3 linked regions of the Homo sapiens genome follow. The protein of the gene in region 1 purifies or fractionates together with the protein of each later gene. This does not show direct contact. Each region holds a gene or a part of one and is shown on either strand. Other genes may lie near its edges. The genes, in order: INTU, NCAPG and CPLANE2.

Region 1 (7,128 bases):
ATGAATTATGTAATATGTGCTTTTTTTTTTCTACTACAATTTTTCATAAAAAGGAGTTTTATGGAAATTATAGACAGTAAAGTGATCATTACTATATTAACTGTGATTATAAATGGGTTGTTTTCAGGACAGATTTTAGTTCATGGTGAAGTGAATGTTTCTTTTTTGAAAACTTATGTAAAAGTCTGTTAAAGCTGGCTTTAGCTTTCATTTTAACCTGACAGCCATCCTAAATAATTTCTATGCAAATAATAGATTTTCATGTACAATTTCCAAATGGCATGCTTGTGTGGATATAATTGCATAATCAACTGCTAATGCAAATTATCATTCAGTGAAATTGTTTAAAGTGAGCAGTAACCACACAGTGGTTGATTTAATTTTTTTCAACTCATAGATTCTATAAGGGGACCATCTCTTTTTTCATTGGTTTTCCTTTCTATTGCTATGCCTTTTTGATTCCTTCTCCCCCAACTCCTATTCAAAGCTCTACAAAAAAAGCATCCTATATGAAATAATGTTGAGGATCACAATAAATTAGAAATAGTAAGGATAATTTGAAATAATAAAGAAGTTTCACCCTTTCCCATCTTCCTGCTCCCCAGCCCCAACCCTCACCCCCATGCCAGGATGACATACCTTTCTTTTATATATTGGGCTGCTATTAAGATTATCTTTTCTCTCTTTCATAGTGATCTTGAGCCTGAATGGCTGGACAGTGTGCAGAAAAATGGAGAGCTGTTTTATTTGGAATTGAGTGAGGATGAAGAAGAAAGCCTCCTTCCTGAGACACCAACTGTGAACCATGTCAGGTTCAGTGAAAATGAGATTATCATTGAAGATGACTACAAAGAAAGAAAAAAGTATGAACCCAAACTCAAGCAGTTTACCAAAATTTTAAGAAGGAAAAGACTTTTACCCAAGCGCTGCAATAAAAAAAATAGCAATGACAATGGACCAGTATCCATTCTAAAGCATCAGTCCAATCAGAAGACAGGAGTCATTGTCCAACAGCGATACAAAGATGTGAATGTTTATGTAAACCCCAAAAAGCTAACTGTTATCAAAGCCAAAGAGCAGCTCAAGCTTCTGGAAGTGCTGGTTGGAATTATTCATCAGACCAAGTGGAGCTGGAGAAGAACCGGAAAGCAGGGTGATGGAGAGAGGCTTGTGGTTCATGGCCTGCTGCCAGGGGGATCTGCTATGAAGAGCGGTCAGGTACTCATTGGTAAGTGTTGCTGGTACACATCCATCCCTGTTTACAGAGATCTTGATTAATGATGACACCTTGCGGGAAATGTGATAAAAACAATTATATACAGTCTCCACAGATAAAGAACTGATTAATGACATTTGGTACAGTAGAGAAATGGTTACACATGGTGCACTACAAGGCACAGTGTTCTTAAAATGACCAGTTCAGTGTGTTGAGTATGTGTGTGCCTTGTTCAGGCCAAGAAATAGCTTACCTAATTTTCAAGTTTTGAATTATATAATTTTATTTCATCTTGGTTATATTTGCTGACAAGAAAAAAAACGTTGATCATAGAGTGATAATTTAGGTTTGAATGGCTATATCCAGTAACAGGATACAAAAATATATAATTTATGAATAAAAATACTTTTAAATTGTATGTTTGCACTTGAGTACACTAAGTTCTTGGAGTGGTTTTCAACTGTTTCATTTGGCATATTTTGCAACAGTGGTGTTATATATAAATTTCCTTTTAAGGGCGTGTGTCATAAAATATATCTGTCATAAAATAGCCCACCAATTTTCAAGAAAAATAAACCCACAAATTATTCTGAATATATATTAAGATGAACATTTTGTGTTGCTGATAAATTTTAAGCTGTTAGATACAATGTTTGAGTTAGTAGCAATCTAATTACTTAAAGATAAATGAGTAAAATTTGAGGATATATTATTACTAAAATTTAAAAGTAATAACAGTTCTAAAAGCTGACAGTCTTTTAAGTTTATCTAGCATAAGAGGTTTAAATGAAGAACATTTACAGATAAATTTACAAATATTTCCAACTTTAAATCTGAATTTCATTTGTTTGTTCACTGATTTGACAGTTTGTTTTTTTAGCATCTGCTAAGTGCCAGGAATACAAAGATTACTTTACTGATCCAATTATTTCTTGAAAGGAGCTATGTTTTAGTGGAAGAGACGGGTTACAGATAGGCAGGCAGCTCCTCACTGTCTGATAAGTGTCATCATAGGGGTTTACAAGGAGGATCATATGGAATCTTGTAAGAAGGGCATCTGTGGCAAAGTATGTGTTCCAGAATGATCTCAACAGGATCTGCACACTTTCTTAAAATGTAGTGTTGATACTCCTCCCATGGAGAGTTGTGCTCTGTGTCATTGAATCTGGGTGGGCCGGTGACTACAGCTTAATTGGTGCCATGTGACTTAAGAGGTTGGATCATAAAAGGTGATGCAGCTTCTGCCTGGTTATTTTGGGGATACTTGCCCTTAGAACCCAGTCACCATTGTGTGAAGAGGTCAAGACACCAGTGATCCAGCTGATAGCCCCAACTGAAGCCCTCGCCACCAGATGTGAGTGAGAAGCCTTTAAGATGACTCCAGCCCCAACCACCATCTGCCTGTAACTGCATGAGGAATCCCAAGTGAGAACCACAGCTGACCCCAGTTAACCCCAGAACCAGGAGAGATGATAAATTATTGTTGTTGTTATTTTTTTATTTTTTATTTTATTTATTTATTTATTTATTTTTGAGATGGAGTTTTGCTGTTGTCACTCAGGCTAGAGTGCAATGGCACCATCTTGGCTCACTTCAACCTCTACCTCCCGGGTTCAAGCGATTCTTCTGCCTCAGCCTCCTGAGTAGTTGGGATTACTGGCACCCACCACCATGCCTGACTAATTTTTTTGTATTTTTTAGTAGAGATGGAGTTTCACCATGTTGGTCAGGCTGGTCTTGAACTCCTGACCTCAGGTGATCCACCCGCCTCAGCCTCACAAAGTGCTGGGATTACAGGCGTGAGCCACCGTGCCTGGCCAACTGTTGTTGTTTTAAGCCTCAGAATTATTTGGATAGGCCTGGCGTGGTGGCTAACACTTGTAATCCCAGCACTTTGGGAGGCCAAGGTGGGCAGATCACTTGAGGCCAGGAGTTTGAGACCAGCCTGGCCAACATGGCAAGACCCCGTGTCTACTAAAAAATACAAAACTTAGCTGGGCCTTGTGGTGCATGCCTGTAATCTCAGCTGCTGGGGAGGCTGGGGCACGAGAATCACTTGAACCTGGGAGGCAGAGGTTGCAATGAGCCAAGATTGTACCACCGCACTCCAGCCTGGGGGAACACAGTGAGACTCTGTCTCAAAAAAAAAAAAAAAAATTGTTTGGATGACTTATTATGCAACAATAGATGACTGGAACAGGGGCTAATACATACTTACATTCTCTTGGGTCCTCTACTTTCCTTCTTGTGAAATGATAGGATAGAACTAAATATCTCTATGGTTTGTTCTTTTAGTTCTGTAAAAGGAGCCAGAATTCATTTAACGTGCCCCCCTTTCAGTGGTGTTTCCTGTGAGTTGGTAGTTAGATCTTGAGGCCTATCAAACATATTTTATAGGTGGTCTGTGTGCTTCCATCAGGAACAACATATTATCTGCTGTTTTTCTTTTTGTGATATTAACAGTTATTGATGATCATTGCCTAAATCCATTAATTCATTAAGGGACTGCAAAATGGTGATATTCCAATTCTGTCAGTCTTTCTCAATATTTCAGTTAGACTACTTTCATAAAAAGAAGCTCCCCCTCACCTCTGGTAACCTTGACATATGGTTTAGACAGGAAAGGCAGGATAAATGTCTGATTTTTCTTCATTTAACAGTTTTCACAAAAGCAAGTTGGTACCATTATTCAAGGACTTCAGAATGGTAGGTTGGGAGGGGCCTTAATTCTCTCTAGTTTGGTGCCCACATATTATAGACGAGGGGTTGAGATTGAAACTCAAAAAAAAATAACAAAATTTATTGTTAGTAAATGCATTGGCAGAAAACATTGAGTTTTGAATGTATAAAATGGCAGTATAGTAACTGCTTTTCAAAAACCAGATTCCCTTTCCCTGAAGTCAAATTTGGCTTAATTAAAAGGATCAATTTCAATTCACAATTTGATCTCATTTTTCTGTCCCATACATATGTGCCACTCCTTCTATCCATAAATCCCCACCTCTAACAAGCAAGCCTGATTTATTTTTTTCCTAACTGACCTCCAGATACACCTTGTGTGTCCATCTTTGCTTTTTAGCATTCGTGATTCCTTTTTTGGTGCATCACAAAGATTGCTTTGTATTACTAGGCTAGTGCATTCATCTTCTATTGCTGCCGTGACAAATTACCACAAACTTAGTGGTTTAAAACAATACAGATTTATCATCTTGCAATAATGTAAGCCAGAAATCTAAAATGGGTCTTCTTGTATGAAAATCAAGGTGTCCACAGGGCTACATTCCTTTTGGAGGCTCCAGGGAAGAATCCCATTCCTTGGCCAGCTTTCAGAGGCTACCTGCATTCTTTGGCTTGTGGTCCTGTCCTCCATCATCAAAGCCAGCAGCATAGCATCTTCCAGTCTCTCTCATGCTGACCCTGACACTTTTGCCTTCCTCCTATAAAGACCTTTATCTTTACCTGACGATCATTCGGATAATCCAGGACAGTCTTCCAATCTTTTAAGTTAATTACAACTGCAAAGTCCTTCTTGCTGTGTAAGGTAGCATATTCAGAGATTTCAGGGATTGAAACATAGACATCTTTGGGGGGCAATTATGCTGCCTACCTCAGTGGGGGGTTTTTTGGTAAAATATGAGTTTTTTTTCTTTTTGTGATAGTAATAATATACGTTCATTGTAGACAATTTAGAAAATACAATTAAGCAAAAAAGAAAAATTCCATATACCCAAAGACAACATTTTGTTATATATCCTCCCTTTTCCTACATTTATATACAATAATCTTTTGTCAAAAATAATTTAAGTTGTATATTCATTTTATATATAGTATAAACACAGCAGTAAACAAACTTTTGCATATATATTTTCATAGCCCTTGGTGCCTTATGTAGTAGCCCTTTAGTACACATGTTGTTTGATGTTAAGTATATACTGAGAAATTGATGGCTTTTCTCACATAATTTAACTTTACATTGAGGAACTGTGATAAACTGATCTCTTTTTAAAATATTTTATTTGGTTCTTAAATATATCTCTTAATAAAAATTTTCTCATATTTCTACCCAGGCCATTTCTTATTTAACAATGCAAATCAATCATATAATTCATTCCCTTTTAGCCTTTGAAATGGGACAGATCATATTAATGACTCCCGTGTACTTATGGAGAAAGACCTTTCCTTGGGTTTAGGATGTCCACTGCAAAGGTGCGATGTCCGGGAAGCCAGCCATCTCTGAGTCACTTCACAGAAGTGTTCAGAAACACTAGAGGAAAACAAATGTCTGGGAGAATGAGAAGTGGATATAATATTTATTTCATAGAATGGGAAAATTTTCTACTAAACATTTAAAAATATTGGGTATACTACACTTGCTTTCAGAATTTATTTTCATATATTTTTATGATGAACCATCTCCTCTTTTTAGAGGTTTGTTAGACTTGATAATTTTAGATAATACTCCCTATAACACTCAGCTACAGGAATGTATTCATTAGGATTTGGAGAAAAAAGTCATTTGGCACATCATCCAATGGAGTTTTAGTTTAAAGTAACAAATTTAAAATGTTTTTACTATTTCTGTGCCCTGAGGATAACAAACTATAGACAACAGAACTAATCATTAGGATAGTCCAAAAGTGGTTTCATTTTACATTGACACAGCTATACTGTGTCCATCATTCCTTTATTTTCTTTTAATCACTACAGCTATAAGTAATTTGATATAGTACTTTTGTTTAATCTCTTATATAGGAGAAATTAAACAGGCATCTTGTTGTGTTTTTTTTTTTCCAAGTGGACTTCAAGTTGAAAGTTTATTTTGGTCTGCAAGTTCTTACTTTTAAGAAAAGTTTGTCCAAAGTGCTGTAATAGTTAACCATCATAATGACTTGGTGCCCATGCTTGCAAAACTCCCATCTGAGTTGTATCTCTTGAGCATCTAAACCTAGTTCAAGCCTTCACAGTTGGCCTAAGAAAGTACTCCTGCTTACTCTGCACTTAACCCCATTCTCATTCAATAGAGTATCAAGGAGAGGAAGGAAAAAAAGGAGGAATAGCAGTACCTACAGTGGCAACATTTTCATCTGTTTGCCAACCCTACAGATGGCCAAGTGATGCCTAATAATGGGTTGCCTTAAAGGAAAGGAACTCTGAACTTAGGGAACACCAATCTTTTATAAAGAACAGTTATTAATAATAAGATATTGAGCACAGCATTGACCTTATTATACCATTCAGTAAACAAGCTTGACCTTTGCTCAGGATGGAAACATATCTCTGTTGTCCAAGGCTGTTCATTACACGAACGTCTTTGAAAAGACAGTCTAGAACAAAGACTCTCAATGCCTCGGCTTGTAAGATGTACAGAAACATGAGACTCATGAAGAATTATCTACCAACACGATTCTACATATACAGGTTGAGTACTCCTTCTTCAAAATACCTGGGACCAGAAGTGCTTCCAATTTTTTTTTTTTTAATATTGCATTATACTTACCTGTTGAGCATCCCAAATCTGACAATCCTAAATCCAAAATGCTCCAATGAGCATTTCCTTTGAGGGTCACGTTGGTGCTCAAAAAGTTTTGGATTTTGGAGGATTTTGGATTTTCAATTTTTGGATTTGGGATACTTAGCCTGTATACATGTTTATTATCCATCTTCCCCAAAGAATATTAAGCTCCCTGAGAGTAGAGATTTTGTCTTTGTTCAATTCTTTGTCTCTAGTGCTTAGAAGAGTGCCTGGCACACATTAAGTGCTCAGTAAATATTTCTTAAATGAATGGATGAATATGAATTATTTCATCAATTTCCTAATAATATATTTAGGAATGATGAGAAAAATAACTTTGGTATGTCTATATTTCTATTAATATAGCTCACTGGTATTTTGATAGTATCTTTAATTATGT
Region 2 (7,128 bases), about 110 Mb from region 1:
CTATTACCAGTTTTATAATCACTGGTATATTTATCACTATAGTAGTTGGTATTTTTTTTGGTGTTAAAAGATACCCATAATAATATTGTGTAAAACATAGGTATTTGATAGTCAACCTGTACTTAATAATTGAGGTAGGAAAGATGTGAGAAGTACAGATAAATATATTTAAATATAAGAAATGGGTTTGTTTCAATGAATAAAACCAAAAAATATTTCCTTTTAGGTCTCATTAAAAACCAAAATAATGGGCCCTTATAAAGCCATATCAGTTTAAAATAAACTGTCTGCTATAGTAAGCTTTCTCTTAAATATTGAGGAGTAGCACAGACATAATCTTAATGATGAATTTTCTGTGACTTTTAGGGCTATTTGTTTTCACTTTTGGCCTAAGAGCCAGTCCGTTGACTAATTCCCCCTTGTGTCTTTAGAAGGGAAGTTGGTGGCCTGCGCAGCAGTGACTCAGGCCTGTAATCTCAGCACTTTGGCTCCAACCTGGGCAACATAGTGAGACCTTGTCTCCAAAAAAAAGAAAAAGAAGGAAGTTGGTGGGAAAAAAACTTCAACTAAAATATGTGAGACTAAAAAAATGACATTACTTTCTATTACAGATGGGTTCTCACTCGGGCTGGATTGCAGAGGTGTGGCCTCAAACTCCTGGGCTTAAGTGATCCTTCCACCTCAGCCTCCTAAGTAACTGGAAGCGCCACTACCATGCCTAGCTAATTTTTTATTTTAAAATTATTTTGTAGAGACAGGGGTCTTTCTATATTGCTCAGGCTGGTCTTGAACTCTTGGCTTCAAGCTCTCCACCTACCTTGGCCTCCCAAAGTGCTGGTTATAGGCAGTAGCCATCATGCCCAGCCTATCTTTATCACATTAAAGGCATTTTAAAATATCAAAATGTGTGTTATTTTATGACTGTAGTTAAATAAATAATTTCATCAGTACTAAAATGTATTGCTTTATTTTTAGCATATGCTACTTTGATTGAAAATGATTCAAATCCAGAAGTTAGACGGGCAGTGTTATCATGTATTGCACCATCAGCAAAGACTTTGCCAAAAATTGTAGGGCGCACCAAGGATGTGAAAGAGGCTGTCAGAAAGCTGGCTTATCAGGTAAATAAGTTCAATGTCTTGTGTTGGCATATTCTTAAAGGACAAGGAGCCATTTTCTTAAAGTGCCTTTGAAAAATACTTGGCATGTAATAATTTCTTCAGTTGAGGTTTTATGGAGAACACAGGTAATTTAGGTAGAATCTTACTGTATTAAGTATGTTACCAGGTATTAATTTCTTTTGGAGATTCTGGGTAATTTTCTAAGATGGTGATATTCTTATGAAATCTATAAATTGTGTTGAGGTTAATGACCATCTTTATAAATTATTTTTAAGGTTTTAGCTGAAAAGGTTCATATGAGAGCTATGTCCATTGCTCAGAGAGTAATGCTCCTTCAACAAGGTCTTAATGACAGATCAGGTAAGATAAACAACTTTATATATACAAAACTTTAGTAGATTTTGAGGTCAGACTTAACAAGGTTTAAGAAACGAGTGTCAAATCAGGTCAAGTAAGCCTGCCAGTCCCATGAACCTGGTGAAATTTATCTTGATGTATTATATAGAAAACACAGGGCTAAAGATTTTGATATATATATATTTTTGAGACAGAGTCTCACTCTATCACCCAGACTGGAGTGCTGTGGTGCAATCTTGGCTCACTGCAACCTCTGCCTTCTAGTTTCAAGCGATTCTCCTGCCTCAGCCTCCTGAGCAGCTGGGATTACAGGTGAACATCACCATGTCTGGTTAATTTTTATATTTTTATAGAGACGGGGTTTCACCATGTTGGCCAGACTGGTCTCGAACTCCTGACCTCAAGTGATGCACCTACTTCAGCCTCCCAAAGTGTTGGGATTACAGGTGTGAGCCACCGCGTCTGGCCAAGATCTTGGTATTTTGAAGGAGCAGAGCTTATTTCTTTCACCCTTTCTGTATTTTACAGATGGAGAAACAATACTTAAGTCTGTAGAGCTAATTCATGTCAGAAGTAGGAAAAGATCTATTTGCCCTCTCTCTCTGACTTAAAAAAAAAATGCTGTTCCTTATGTGTATACTTTGGTATGAATGTGTTCTGTGTATCAGAAACAACAAATAGGAATGGTCAGACCAGTATAATTTTCTTATTTTTTTTTTTTTCTGTTAGAGTAGAGTTCCCCAACATTTTTGACACCAAGGATCGATTTCATGGAAGACAGTTTTTCCACAGAGGGCGGGCTGGATGGTTTCCAGATGAAACTGTTCCACCTCAGATCATCAGGCATTACTTAGATTCTCATAAGGAGCGTGCAACCTGGATACCTCATGTGCGCAGTTCACAATAGAGTTCCTGCGCCTGAGAGAATCTAATGCATCTGCTGATCTGACAGTAGGAAGAGCTCAGGTGGTAATGCTCGTTAGACCACGGCTTACCTCCTCCTGTGCGGCCCGGTTCCTAACAGGCCACAGACTGGTACTAGTCCGTGGCCCAGGGGTTGGGGAGCCTGAGAGAATCTGCTTATAGGAATGATATTTTTTGAAGTTTTTAACTCTCATGAGAAGGCCAAGATGGCTCTATTGCGCTGTAGTGAGAAAACCGACTTGCGTTTGAAAACATTGTCAGAGGACTAATTAGTAGGATGACCTTAAAAGCTAAGACTAAGGTTTGTTCAGTGACGTGTGCTTGTATAGTTCACTACTGCAAATAGCAATCGTGTAATAGATAAAATCAGATAACAAGTGAGATAATAGCTATTACATATTCTGGGCTAACACCTGAAGCCCATTGAACCCAGGGGAGAAGGAATGTAAAGATATTTTTGTAGGCTGTGGTATTTGGTGCTGAACCTTTTCCATTTTTATTTGTAAGTGACCATTACAGTGACTTTTGCAGTATCATGGTACTTCTTTTTTTTTACCTTTAATATGCTTAGTTGGCTGGGCGCTATGGCTCACACCTGTAATCTCAGCACTTTTGGAGGCCGAGGCAGGCGGATCACGAGGTCAAGAGATTGAGACCATCCTGGCCAACATGGTGAAACAAAAATTAGCTGGGCGTGGTGGCGCATGCCTGTAGTCCCAGCTACTCGGGAGGCTGAGGCAGGAGAATCGCTTGAATCTGGTAGGTGGAGGTTGCAGTGAACCAAGATCGTGCCACTGCACTCCAGCCTGGTGACAGAGCGAGACTCTGTCTCAAAAAATATATATATACATGCTTAGTTGTGCCTCTTAACCTCTACTATTTCTATTGTAAATACTGACTTTGTTAATTAAAACAGACAAAATACAAGAGATGGAAGCTAGAGGGAGCCTTTGTTCACCTATGTTTCAAATGACTCAATAGATGCTGTGAAACAAGCTATGCAGAAGCATCTTCTTCAAGGCTGGTTACGGTTCTCTGAAGGAAATATCTTAGAGTTGCTCCATCGGTTGGATGTAGAAAATTCTTCTGAAGTGGCAGTCTCTGTTCTCAATGCCTTGTTTTCAATAACTCCTCTCAGTGAACTGGTGGGACTCTGTAAAAACAATGATGGCAGGTACATAAAGGATTCATTCTTTGAAATGTAGTACTGATTAACTTGTGCAATTAATTTGTTTTTTTTCCTCCCCATAGCTTAAGATTATATTAATACCTTTAATCTTAACTCTCTTTTGTTTTCTTTTAGTCTGATGAATATCCTTTTATCCTTCCTTTTTCCCCTCCTGGTGTAAGAACTCATAACTTTATCATAGACTATCTACTTTAGCTATGCTTTTCCCCCCTTCAGTTTCTTACTTTGATTTTTGAATTAGCCTACCATGAGAAAATCCAGCAACATGCACCCCTAGTATATGTTTGCTTATTTGGTTCTTTTTTGTTCTAAGTTTCTTCATTCCTTTTTGTGTGGATACATTAATGACTCTAATTAAAAGGATAGTGTAGTGGTTTTAAAGCAAATCTTATTATTCTCATTTTTGTACTCTTCAATTCTTAATGATAAAAAGATCATGCTTTCTCTCACACTCTTTCTTTTAAATGAAGGAAATTGATTCCAGTGGAAACATTAACTCCTGAAATTGCTTTGTATTGGTGTGCCCTTTGTGAATATTTGAAATCAAAAGGAGATGAAGGTGAAGAATTTTTAGAGCAGATTTTGCCAGAGCCTGTAGTATATGCAGACTATTTATTGAGGTAAATTTTTTTTCTTTTAGTTTGGAGAGTGATTGTGTTGCTGCATGTGTCAATCTCCCAGTCCCCTTCCTCAAAGTCATGTTTGATTGTGAATATGTTAAAAATCCTTTTTTTGTACATGTAGGGATAGTTATATACATCGAGTCTTTTTGAATATCTTGTGCTGGTCTGTATACTGAAAGAGCAAGTCACTATGTTTAGGATCATTTCTTCAAAACTGTTAAGATATGATTATGACCATTTCTGCATAAAGTTGATGATGATGATATATTATTTCTGAAATTGGTTGGCACATTTTCTGTTAAGTGTCAGATAATAAATATCTTAGGGTCCTGTGGGCCATACCGTCTGTCACAATGACTCAACTCTGCCATGGTATTGTAAAAGCAGCCAAAGACAATGTAAGTAACTGTTTTTCAATAAAACTTTTATTGACTTTTATGGCCACTAAATAGTTGAACTTTAATATTCATGTGTTAACAAAATAAGAAATTTTAAAAAATGATCAGTTAAAAATTTAAAATAGTCTTAGCTTGCAAGCTATATAACAGGTAATAGGCTGGATTTGATGCACGGAACATTGTTTTCCAATTCACAGCGTGGATCTTTGTGGCCAGTTTTATTTATTAAAAACTTACTATCTAGCTTCATGTTTTAAAGTTTTTTCAAAATATGCCTTTTTAAAAAACAATTTGGATTACCATAATTATACCTCTTAAGAAATTATTTGGATTACTTTATTTCACTTTAAAATTATACAAGAAAAACATGAATGCATTCTTGTCAAAATTCAAATACAGAGGTATAAGGAATAAAAATGTGGAATTCCCTCTTTTATTTCCTACTTCCTCAATCCCATTGATTAGCAACTAAGTGTATATTCTAGCAACCCTTAGAATTAGCAACTAAACAATATAGGGTGTATATTCAAACCTCTTTCTCTGCATTTATATACATTTTTTGAGTACAGGTTTCTTTAAAAATATAACACTGTGTATATACTTTTTTTTTCAACTGATAACTGAGATCATTATATATTGGTGCATATATAATGTAATAGATACTGTTACAGTCTTAACAGCATATCATTCCGTAGTATGGTGGTAACATTTAATTTATTCCTCTGTTGATGGACATTTAGGATGTTTCCATTTTTCACTGATAAAAGCAAAAGTATGTTAAATTTCCTTTACATTTTTGGGTACCTTTGGGATTTTTGGGGGTTAATTCCAAGAAATAAGTTGCTACACCAAAGGATAATATATGTATATTTTGATAGATATTGGTATGTAGGTTTTTAACTTCAACTTTATGGTTTATTTTTTTTTTTTTGAGACGGAGTCTTGCTCTGTCGCCAGGCTGGAGTGCAATAGTGCAATCTCGGCTCACTGCATCCTCCGCCTCCCGGGTTCAAGCGATTCTCTTGCCTCAGCCTCCTGAGTAGCTGGGACTACAGGCACGCGCCTCCATGCCCAGCTAATTTTTGTATTTTTAGTAGAGATGGGGTTTCACCATGTTGGCCAGGATGGTCTCAATCTCTTGACCTCGTGATCTGCCTGCCTTGGCCTCCCAAAGTGCTGGGATTACAGGCGTGAGCCACAGCGCCCAGCCTGATGTATTTTTTTAAAAAAGCTTCCATATAATATGAATTATGGACCTGAATTATCTGTATGAAGTACAGTTCTCTGCTTTTGTTTAAAATGATCTCACATAAAAGTTAGGCAGCAAAGCTGTGCATGCCTCTAAATTTCCCCTCAAAAATCCTAAATCTAGGATAAGTATCTCAAATGTGAGCCAGTAGGGAAACTATAGCTCAAGCCCATGTTAACATCATGAAGAACCTGTGTGAATCTAATGAGCATTTTAATGTTAATTATTTCAGACTTTGACATTTAAGTAGGGAATTCATTATAATGCTGTTTGGGCCATGTTGAAATGTTTCCAAAAGGAATGAGTTTGTGGCAAAGTTTAATAATATATATAAATATAAAAGATGTTTATAGAAGGTAGTGAAAATATAAGAAAATATGAGGAAATGTTAAATATTTAAATGGCATAAAGGGGGAGGAGTTTTCCTCAAGGACAGCATCAGAAGGTGACTTGTAAAAAGCTTGATTCCTCCCTTCTGAAAGGTCAGGGATTAACATTTCCTTTGTCACTCTCTTAGTTTTGAAATAAGTAACTTTAACCTCTTCGACTTATTTTCTTCACCTTTAAAGAGGAAAATTTTCGGCTGGGTGCGGTGGCTCATGCCTGTAATCCCAGCACTTTAGGAGGCTGAGGCCGGTGGATCACGAGGTCAGGAGATCGAGACCATCCTAGCCAACATAGTGAAACCCCGTCTCTACTAAAAATACAAAAAAATTAGCTGGGCGTGGTGGCAGGCGCCTGTAGTCCTAGCTACTCGGGAGGCTGAGGTAGGAGAATAGCGTGAACCTGGGAGGTGGAGCTTGCAATGAGCCGAGATCGCGCCACTGCACTCCAGCCTGGGCAACAGAGCAAGACTCCGTCTCAAAAAAAACAAAAAAAAGAAAACTTTCAGAAATTTATTTTAGTGATTGTTGAAAGAATACCTAAAAAATAGAATGAGTGTCTTTTTGGAGGAACATGACTAGATGGGATTAGTATACTTGAGTACAGAAACAAAATTAAATTGAAAAATTGTTTCCTGATAATCTCAGGAATATGTTTTCAGGCATACTGTATATTTTAGGCAGTAGATTCAATGACTAAGAACTCTGATGTGAAACAATTTTGGTTAACCAAGGTGCTCACTTAAAGAGCAAACGAGGAAATGAGGATTATCAAATTAGAGTAAGTAAAAGGGACAACAATAAAATTTGTTGAAAGCCATCTTAAATATAAATTCTTAGACTTTAAAATACTTTCTTGAGTGGTCTCTTCATTATAATAAATG
Region 3 (3,120 bases), on another chromosome or scaffold:
CCAAGAAGCTGGGATTATAGGCACCCACCACCACACCCAGCTGATTTTTGGTATTTTTTTTTGTAGAGATGGAGTTTCACCATGTTGGCCAGGCTGGTCTCGAACTCCTGACCTCAGGTGATCTGCCCGCCTTGGCCTCCCAAAGTGCTGGGATTACAGGTGTAAGCCACCGCACCAGGCCTCCTCTGTGTAATTTATAATGAACAGAAGCTTATTTGGCTCATGGTTCTGGAGGCTGGGAAGTCTAAGAACATGGCAGCAGCATCTGGAAAGGGCCTTCATGCTGTGTCATCCCGTGGCAGAAGGCAGAAGGGCAACAGCAAGACAGCAAGAGGCGCCCAAACTGGCTTTTATAACAAACCCACTCCCTCAATAACAACATTAATCCATTTATGAGGGCAGCTGATCACCTTGTGTTAGGCCCCACTTCCTAACACTGGTGCATTGGCGATTAAGTTTCCAACACATGAACTCTGGGGGACACCTTCAAACCACAGCACCCCTTGACCCTGCCTGGCTCTCTCTTTGCCCTAGGGCTGCTTGAGCGGCCAGTGCTGCTGCCGCCTGTGTCCATTGACACTGCCAGCTACAAGATCTTTGTGTCCGGGAAGAGTGGTGTGGGCAAGACGGCGCTGGTGGCCAAGCTGGCTGGCCTGGAGGTGCCTGTGGTGCACCACGAGACCACCGGTGAGTGGGACCTCTATCCTTTGCCCATCCTGGGAGGCCCTCCTTGGGGGTGGAGGCAAGAACCTGGCCCTGGACCACCTCTTACTCTGTAGCCTTGGAAAGTCACTTCACGTCTCTGAGCCTACATGGGCTCCTTGGTCCCAAGGGGATAATAGTACCACAGGGTTGTTGTGTGGTTGCCACTAGAGGTGGTGGTGGTGGTAACATGCCTAGCATCAAGCTACGCTCAAGGTAAATGCTCAGGAAATGCTAATCTTGCTTTGTTGTTTCTCACCACTGGATGCTGATTGTTCCACCATGTTGAAACATCTCCCAGCGTCCTGGGCCCTTTGGGTCTCCCTGGACATACAAACGAAACTTGCTTTGCCATAGCTAGGGCTGCATCTTCCTGGTGTACCAGAGTCTCCTCCAGGGCCAGTTTCTGTTTCTCCCATCAGACTGAGAATTATCCCGGGTCAAGGACTGTGCCTCCCTCATCAAACTAGGGACCCATCAGGGCAGGGATGTATCTCTTCTTCCTATTCCTTCCTGGTCCCCTATTCCTCCCATCTCCACCTCTCCCATGGTGAGTGGCTGACCCTGGCTCCCCCTCAGGCATCCAGACCACCGTGGTATTTTGGCCAGCCAAGCTGCAGGCCAGCAGCCGTGTCGTCATGTTTCGTTTTGAGTTCTGGGACTGTGGAGAGTCTGCACTCAAAAAGTTCGATCATATGCTGCTGGTGAGCAGGCATGTGGGCCTGGGTGGGTTCTGCCAGGGGCCGATTGGGTATTAATGAGCTCAAGGCACTGCTCAGAGACCTGAGCTGGCACTGGAGACAGTCCCAGCCCATGCTTGTCCTAGGACCAGCCGCTCCTTGCTCTGGGCCTCAGTTTCCCAATCTGTGAAAGGAGGGATTATTCCTGATTCTTCTGAGGGCCCTGCAGCTGATGGGGGGTGACATGGTTATATGCCTCTCCATCACCAGGCTTGCATGGAGAACACAGATGCCTTCCTCTTCCTCTTCTCCTTCACTGACCGTGCCTCCTTTGAAGACCTCCCTGGACAGCTGGCCCGCATAGCAGGTGAGGCCCCTGGTGTCGTCAGGATGGTCATCGGCTCCAAGTATCCTTTGGATATCCTTGGCAAGTCACGGAGCCAGGGGGTCAGGGGCCCAGCCTCTGCCCAGGCATGGAATTCAGCACCTGGGCTTTTACTTAAAGGGTACAGCATGGCTACCCCAGCTCCTGGGTGTGGGCTCCAGGGAGGAGGGAGAGGCAGGGTCTGATGGGGGGCTGTGCAGAGGCACCCAGTTAGGCTCCTTGACCCTCCTCCAGATTTGACCAGTACATGCACACGGACGTGCCCGAGCGGGACCTCACAGCCTTCCGGCAGGCCTGGGAGCTGCCCCTGCTACGGGTGAAGAGTGTGCCGGGGCGGCGGCTGGCTGATGGGCGCACACTGGACGGGCGGGCTGGGCTGGCCGACGTTGCCCACATACTCAATGGCCTTGCTGAGCAGCTGTGGCACCAGGACCAGGTGGCGGCTGGCCTGCTTCCCAACCCCCCAGAGAGTGCTCCTGAATGAGTCACGAGTGGTTGCCTGTGATCCCACCCCCAACCCTCAGGTCTCGACATAGGGCTGGAGGCTGGGGCAGGAACATGGATCCTATCTGGAGGACTGGCCAGCATGGCCTGATCAGGGAGGATGTGGCCAGAGAAGGCCCACCCGCGAGCAGCGCTTTCCTTGCAGAATTCATGGCAGGGAGGTGGGGACCAAGGCCCTGAGCTCGAACATCTCCCGTGGCCTTTCCCCCTTTGGCAGCACCGATGGAGGATGACTGGGAGAGGGGGTGCCTCTCAAGTTACTTCAATCAAGAACCTGTATTGGTTGAGGTGACACCATCTGTTGTAACAGATAAACCCCGAAATCCCAGTGCTGAACTCCAGAGACGTGTTCGTTCTCACGTAGGCCTCAGCTCGGGAGGAGGTGACAGTGGGCGTGGGGCTCTGCTCCAGGCGCTCCTGCAGAGACCCAGCCCCAGAGACCCTACCCTGCCCAGTTGCCCTAGGGTGTCAGCACCCAGTCAGCAGCCAGGGAGTGAGTGCAGGCAGGAGGTGTCCCCCCGCTTTCTGTGGACCAGGCCCAGGGTGGCACCTCATTCTGCCCACATTCCAGAGGCCAGCACCCAGCAGTCATGTGGTCATGTGGCGCTGTGGGGGAGGCTGGGACATGGAGTCCACCTGTGAGTCCAGGAGTTAAGCCCGTCGCGCTGCAGGGCCCTTTTTTTTTTTTTTTTTTTTTTTTCCAGAGTCTTGCTCTGTGGCACAGGTTGGAGTACAGTGGTGCACTCTCAGCTCACTGCAACCTACACCTCCTGGGTTCAAGCGATTCTCCTGCCACAGCCTCCCAAGTAGCTGGGATTACAGATGCCAACCACCATGCCTGGCTAATTT

What was found.
Region 2: the proteins of INTU (region 1) and NCAPG purify together in Homo sapiens (affinity purification with mass spectrometry; 2 studies listed by BioGRID and IntAct, with this or other methods). This does not show direct contact.
Region 3: the proteins of INTU (region 1) and CPLANE2 purify together in Homo sapiens (affinity purification with mass spectrometry; 3 studies listed by BioGRID and IntAct, with this or other methods). This does not show direct contact.

What each region holds. Positions count from the first base shown.
Region 1 is NC_000004.12:127,642,829-127,649,956, forward strand, and holds part of INTU (protein inturned), read left to right. Parts: intron 1-692; coding exon 693-1,228; intron 1,229-7,128. UniProt on the Homo sapiens protein: Plays a key role in ciliogenesis and embryonic development.
Region 2 is NC_000004.12:17,813,878-17,821,005, forward strand, and holds part of NCAPG (condensin complex subunit 3), read left to right. Parts: intron 1-975; coding exon 976-1,121; intron 1,122-1,396; coding exon 1,397-1,481; intron 1,482-3,383; coding exon 3,384-3,576; intron 3,577-4,061; coding exon 4,062-4,211; intron 4,212-7,128. UniProt on the Homo sapiens protein: Regulatory subunit of the condensin complex, a complex required for conversion of interphase chromatin into mitotic-like condense chromosomes.
Region 3 is NC_000001.11:16,231,179-16,234,298, reverse strand, and holds the end of CPLANE2 (ciliogenesis and planar polarity effector 2), read left to right. Parts: intron 1-534; coding exon 535-687; intron 688-1,281; coding exon 1,282-1,406; intron 1,407-1,652; coding exon 1,653-1,789; coding exon of another isoform or gene 1,790-1,800; intron 1,801-2,001; coding exon 2,002-2,251; 3' UTR 2,252-2,607; downstream 2,608-3,120. UniProt on the Homo sapiens protein: Required for efficient primary cilia initiation, regulating a late step in cilia initiation. Plays a role in the final maturation of the mother centriole and ciliary vesicle that allows extension of the ciliary axoneme.